Linked DNA regions of Homo sapiens. The protein of the gene in region 1 interacts with the protein of each later gene in a biochemical or structural test. Each region holds a gene or a part of one and is shown on either strand. Other genes may lie near its edges.

What was found.
Region 2: the proteins of KCNJ1 (region 1) and ARHGAP21 interact in a test that uses a peptide from one of them, tested with the Homo sapiens proteins (one large-scale study listed by IntAct).

The regions. Positions count from the first base shown.
Region 1 is NC_000011.10:128,837,384-128,840,624, forward strand, and holds the end of KCNJ1 (ATP-sensitive inward rectifier potassium channel 1), read right to left. Parts: intron 2,882-3,241; coding exon of another isoform or gene 2,861-2,881; coding exon 1,742-2,860; 3' UTR 637-1,741; downstream 1-636. UniProt on the Homo sapiens protein: Inward rectifier potassium channels are characterized by a greater tendency to allow potassium to flow into the cell rather than out of it.
Region 2 is NC_000010.11:24,615,888-24,619,387, reverse strand, and holds part of ARHGAP21 (rho GTPase-activating protein 21), read left to right. Parts: intron 1-3,500. UniProt on the Homo sapiens protein: Functions as a GTPase-activating protein (GAP) for RHOA and CDC42. Downstream partner of ARF1 which may control Golgi apparatus structure and function. Also required for CTNNA1 recruitment to adherens junctions.

The DNA of each region.
Region 1 (3,241 bases):
CCAGCCATCTACATGCATGCTGCCAGCCAGCAGGAGAATACACCAGGAAGAGTGCATGCTGATGGGAACAAGTGTCAACACAGTTTCCCTCCAGTTTATGAAGGGGCTACATCATGACAGTGGGCCAGCAGAGAATTCCAGCTCCCTCAAGCTTGTGATACCTGATTTCTTTTTCCTGTCAGCACATTAAATTGTGGTGCCAAAGCACTCACAGGTACAGAGTGAGAGTTCCACATGGGCCAGCTATGGCCACTGTTATGGCCACTGACAAGGTGTGCAACCCTAAAACCATCAGACTTCCCACTGTTCTTAGTCAGAAGGACCAGAGTGGTGCATGGATCTGTACAAATACAGCCCAGGCATGGAAAAACATAAGCCATCCCTCCCAACAACTGTGGGCAGCTGCCGTTTTATGTGCCAAGACTCACACTGGAGAGGCGTGATGGAGCTGTACCGGAAGGGGTGTGTCTGTGGCCAGGGTCATTTCCTCCTGAGGACTCCAGACAACAAATGTGTCCTATCTGCTTCCTCTCCACTCCTCCCGCCCCTTCCAGGAGAGGGTCCTCTCTGCAAGAGGATTTTCACCTGGAACCTGACTCAGTTAATGCATAGTAATAATAATAATCAAAGTGCATGCACAGTTTCAGAAATTTACTATATTAATCAACACACTGAAAACATTTTGATTCCTAAGCAGCTTTGAGTACCAGTTTTTTTCCAGGACACATTCGGAATGATGCAGGTGGGGATCTGAAGAAGACTTTCACAGTAAAACTTTCCCCTCAAGGTCGAGCCTTCCATAAGCTGGTCCCTTTTAGGAAGATGGGCTGTCAGGGAAAGAAAGACATAGTAACATTCTGACTGTGGGGCTCCATCCCATTCCTCTCTCTTTCCCACTTCTTCTTTAGAAATAGCATTCCAGTACAAACTCTAGGTGGAGGAACACATGAAACTGTTTCTTCTCAGGTGCATTAATGATACATTCCCTTCTCTACTGACTTTGCACCTTCCAACTCCTCATTGCTGTCTTCGAAGAGCAGGAAATGCTCTTTATAAACAGATTTATAGCCCTTTAAGCCATCCAATACAGATTGAAAGAAATATCATCACCACTTTTAACTAAAGCATTCTGTCTTGCAGGAAGGTATCATCAAGATTCTAGTGTGCAGATTTAGCCTCTGTCTAAACGTACCACATGAGAAGCTTAGAGCCTCAAATTGTTCTTTGTGTAAGCGTTTTCTTGTCATTGATTGGTTGGTTCATCTCCCCAAATTAGGAGACAATTTTTCCATGAGTAAAAGTCCACATTAAAAGTGGAGTCATTCTTATCAGTAGAATCAAAATGAGATTATTATTGTCCCCTGATCCTTTCTAAAGTTCATAACTTCTTTAAGGAAACTTTAAAAAATATTTTGTTTGGCCTGTTCATGAAACTTTTGATAATTTTATCTGCTCCAATCCACCTTATATGAGCTCAAATAATCATATTTAAGATTTCAAGAGAGCACCTATGTCTTCCATACACCAGTTTCATATAAATGCATTGCACGTTCTAATACAGTAGCCTTGTGGAGATGCATGTCTTGTGGGATCACAATTGCGGGGCTCAGGGGTCTTTGTGCTGGTAGACTTTGAAGGCTCTCATCCTACTTTCGTACCCCTAAATTGTTGACTGCTTCATAATGCTTCTAGGTACTAGGAGCTTTAGAGACTTTGCTTTACTCCCGTTGAAAAGCCACTGTTACATTTTGGTGTCATCTGTTTCATTGACTTCTGACAAGATGAAGTTGGGGTTGTCATAGCCTCTCTTCATCCTGGCTCTAACATCTTTCTCATTATAAAGGCACATGGCACAGTGAGGGGTCTCCACTTCCACTGTCTTGCTAAAGTTATGGAAATCCACTCGGTATTTCCCTTCCTTTGTCTTGGATACTATGGGAGCAAAACGGTAGCCCCAAAGCACCTCCTCTGGGACATAGGATGTCCGGACTTGGCAGGTAGCACTGGTGGACTCCACTGTGCCATCTAAAAACACCACTAATTCAAAGTCCTGCTGGAGAAGGGTCTCCGCTGCCATGTGGAAGAAAGGGCTGTTGTGATCAATGACATGGTAAATTGTCAATGGGGAGATGAAGAATAAATTTTCATTCCCAGCGTCAACTACAAAGTTGATATTGATCTGGTCCAAAATAATGGTCTCTCCTTCAGGAGTGACTGTGGTCTTCAGAAGCTTTCCATAAATGTGACTGCCAATAAGAAGGCTCTTCCTGAGATTAGCCACTCGGATTAGGAGGCAAAGCTTCCCTCCCCGTTTGCTGATCACTGCGTTCTTGCTGAACGTAATGGTCTTGGCACGTTTTTTGGGCCTGGAGATCTTGGCTAAGATGGCCCCACACATGAAAGAATTGATTATAACTCCAAGTATAGACTGAAAGATAAGCAGAAAAATGGCAGTGGCACACTGTTCTGTCACACACCTGAATCCATATCCAATGGTCACTTGAGTCTCCAGAGAAAACAGAAAAGCTGAGGTCAAGCCATTAATATTCTCCACACAGGGAGTGTGATTGGCAGAAGGATGGAATTCCGGGAGGTCTTTGTGAATGTACGCTACTGCATACCACAGGAGACCAAAGAAAAACCAACTCCCCAAGAAGGCTGTGATGAAAATGGTCATTTTGTATCTCCACTTGAGGTCAAGTACCGTTGTCCAGATGTCCACAAAGAATATAAACCTTGACTGTGCCTCCACATTGCCAAATTCTATGTTGCACCTTCCATCTTTGGAGACTAGCCTTGCTCTTTGCCGAGAATGCCCAAAAAAGCGAGTGACGACCCATTTCCGAAGATGTTTGAACATACTTTCTGTCAACACCCTGATCTGAAAACACATCAAAGAAAAACAAAAAAGGATTATGTTTATAGCAATAGTGAACTAGGTGACCCACATGAAAGACCTAACTACGAAAAGATCATTCAAAATTATCTGGGTTACTAATCATTTGGCAAGCTGACAAGTTTATTCTGGATACCACAATGCTATTTCTGATAGAAACTTTCCACTGGAAGACCATGTTACTCAAACATAAAGAGGCAAAATAATTACAGAGAGCTAGAAATGAAGACAAACTAAGTGATTATATATTCAAGTGTTTCCTGACCTCAATTAGTCTCACACAACCTTAAATATGTTTGTAATAACCAATTATGACCTGTATTTTTATTTATTGAATATTACTTA
Region 2 (3,500 bases), on another chromosome or scaffold:
AGAAGTCTTACACTGTGATTTTAAAATGTTTCTAGTGAATCTCATAAGCTGTGCTTCAACCAGAGCTTTCACAAACCTCTTTAAAAGTTATTTCTAGTACCAATTTTCCTTTTTTTAAAAAAAAAACAAAAACTTCATGTACCTAGTACCCATTTCAAATTTTTATTTTGATGAAACAAATTCCTGAGATTAAGGAAATCAGCGAAGCAAATTATACCTAATTGTTGATTCAGGTGAATGAAAAACCAAGTGGAACAGTTTTGATAATTAGTTACCAACCTTTCATTTAAACAGTGCTTTTACTTTCTAAAACATATTTCTTTGTAAATTTAACGTGTACTGAGAGAAAAGACCTCTTCATTGTCAAGTTAGTTTGCCATACTATAAATCCTGGAACAGATTTAGAGAAGTTACTTAAATTATAAGCGTGTGCCACAGTTGCCGGCACCTGTCCTGTTGAGTCTTCTGTCTGCTCCCTCCCACCCCAGATCTGTTCTCCATACAGCAGCCAGTGTGATGTTTTTAAAAATGTCAATTAGATCACACCACTCCTCTGTGCAGAACCCTCTGTTTCCTTCCCATTCATCTCACCCAAAATAGCATGCAAAATCCTCCCGTGATCTGAAAGGCCCTCCATGGTCTGCCTCACAACTCCCTCTCTGATGGTGTCAGAGAGATCCTACTTCGTGATCTCCTATCACAATCTTCCATGTGCATCCCATCTGCAGCCTCACCAGCCTCCTTGCTGTCAGGTGTGTGTTGCTACAGGGACAGGTACAGCTGGTTTCTAACCCTGGTATACATTCCACAGATAGTTAACAAGCCTCTGTCTTCCTCATGACATTTGGGTCTCTGCTCAAAGATCTTATCCAAGCAGGCTTTGTGACTCACCTATCTAAAACAGGTATCCCACGCACAGACACAGAAACGGACATTCTCTTCCCTTAAGCTTTTTTATTTATCTTCGTATTACTGTTTCCACTTGACATGTTTTGTTTTTTTGTTACATGTTTCTCAGTAGAACTAAAACATAAACTACATGAGAGCAGAGATTTAAAATCTTTGGTTCACTTTTGTGTCCCTAATGCCTAGAACACTGCGTGGCACATAAAGAATTCACTCAGTAAGTATTTGTTGAGATAATGGCTGAAAGACAATTTTGAAATGCTGGTTAAATGTATAGCACAACAATACAGTTCTCATCATGACTGTGCAGCTCTAAAACATCATCTGCTAACAGGTGATGACTTATGTCCTTAATATTATCTTCATTTTATAAGTGAGAAATTTAAGGTATAGAGAGGCTAAATAACATCTCTAAAATCGCATAGTAAGTGATAAGAGACAGGGTCTCTAGGTTTGCCTCATTCAGCCTCGTCCCAGAGCACAGCTCCAGGGAGCACGCCATTTATATGGAATGCCTGTGAAGAGCGCCCCCTGGAGGCATGCGATGCAGGGGCTTTTTTCCTTCTCTTTTTGCCACCAACCAAGGCCATACTTGTAGTCCCCCTGGTGTCCCATGGGTTTATGAAAAGAGTTCTCCATCATTTTACAATATAATATGCTTCTCTTTGAGTACTAGTTGAGTTTTTCTTTTCTACGGGAACATTTTTAAAGCTGTTGAGGACTGTTGTTTCTTTTCTACGGAAACATTTTTAAAGCTATCAATTGTAAAGCTATTGATAGCTTTAAAAATGTTTCTTGAGAAAACACTTAATTGGATAGGTGACACTAAAAGCTTTTTTAAAAAGTTCCACACAGCTTATGTTTTTTTTTATAAATCGGATATATTCAAGTTGTCAACATTGTGGGGAATCTCAACCTAAATTGTACCCATATTCATATCTATACCCCTAAGGCCAAGCTCAGCAAATAGTAGACTCCTGTTGTAGATGGAATCTTATACATCATCTAGAATAGATATTTTATAGAAGGCAACTGATGACGAATGATTGTTTTATGAAGTTTTAAAATGTAAAAAAATCTTACAACCTGTGGCTGTTTCACAGGCCCATGCGATCTTATCAGAACAGTGGCATCATATTTTCTTCCTACATAATAACAACAATATAATCAGATTACATTGGAGTAGTAAAAAAATGTGCTGGATATATCTGTTAATATTTCTTCCTAGTTATGAAGTATAGAAATAAAACAATTATGTTATTAAAGAGAAGATTTTGGCTAAAATAGAAAATAAAGATCTGTATAATTCTATATACATATAGATTGATGTAAATAAATAATTTTATTTACTAAGAATAAAAGTACTCTCTAATTAGTTCCTATCTTATTTGACTTTCGCCCTCCTTCCCCCGCTGCTCACCTTCTGCTGTGCGGCCCAGCTCCTAACCGGCCATGGACCAGTACCAGTCTGCAGCGCAGGAGTTGAGGACCCCTGCTATATACTAAGGTTGCAGGAGGCATACAGGCATACAAAACAAAATGAATACATTTTGTTTTTAAATTTGGAATATTACTCATTAACAGTATTTTGTTTACTGTTCCCACCCCCCACTTTATAAAGCTGCATAGTAAGTCCTGAAAATAAATTTCAACTTCTTTTATAAGTAAACACAAACCTCAACAATGTGAGCTGTTCATGAGTAATCTCACGGTGAATAGCAGATATTACAATGTGTTCTAAAATCCTGACTTCCTACACTTCTCTAATTTATACCACTCATTACTAGTAATACAAAAATGCTACGACTGTTACCTACACTCAGGGTTTCATCTTAACTTTCTTTCTCCATAGTTTTGTCATATCTCTTAAGACTCCTCCTCCATCTTACCCCAACATTGGCTGCGTGTGTGCTCAGTTGAGGGTTAGCCCTAAGTTAAATTGAATTTGATGGTCACAGCCTTATTGGCACTGCCATATCAAGATGATTTAGAAGTGTTAGATTTGGTAAGATATAGCTGGATTACATTGTCCATACAGGGGAACTTAGCTCCCTGAAATTTACCCAAAGGGAAGAGGTGACCATTCCCTATACCCAGTTTCTCCCTTTGGGAGCTCTGGGCTCAGTGCCAGTGGTGATATGACAGGACGATGCAATGAGCACCCAGCCCTTCTTTAATACTAATTCAGGCTGAGTCTTAGCAAATAGTCTGTTTATAAAGAGAAATCATATACTTTATCATCTTACATCTTTTATAAAGAGAAATCATGTACTTATCATCTTTATATGTCTTTTTCATATATTGGCTTTTCCCAAAAATGTGATGCCATTGGTACTTAAGCTTAGAGATTTTTGCTTCCACTATTTGAGTAACGATGTGAGGTAATTTAAAAAATAATAAAATAGTCCGGGTGCAGTGGCTTGCGCCCGTAATCCCAGCACTTTGGGAGGCTGAGGCAGTCAGATCACTTGAGGTTGGGAGTTCAAGACCAGCCTGGCCAACACAGTGAAACTCCATCTCTACAAAAAAAAATACAAAAATATTAGCTGGGCGTGGTGGGGTGCCTGTGAGCCCAGCTACTTGGGAGGCGGAGG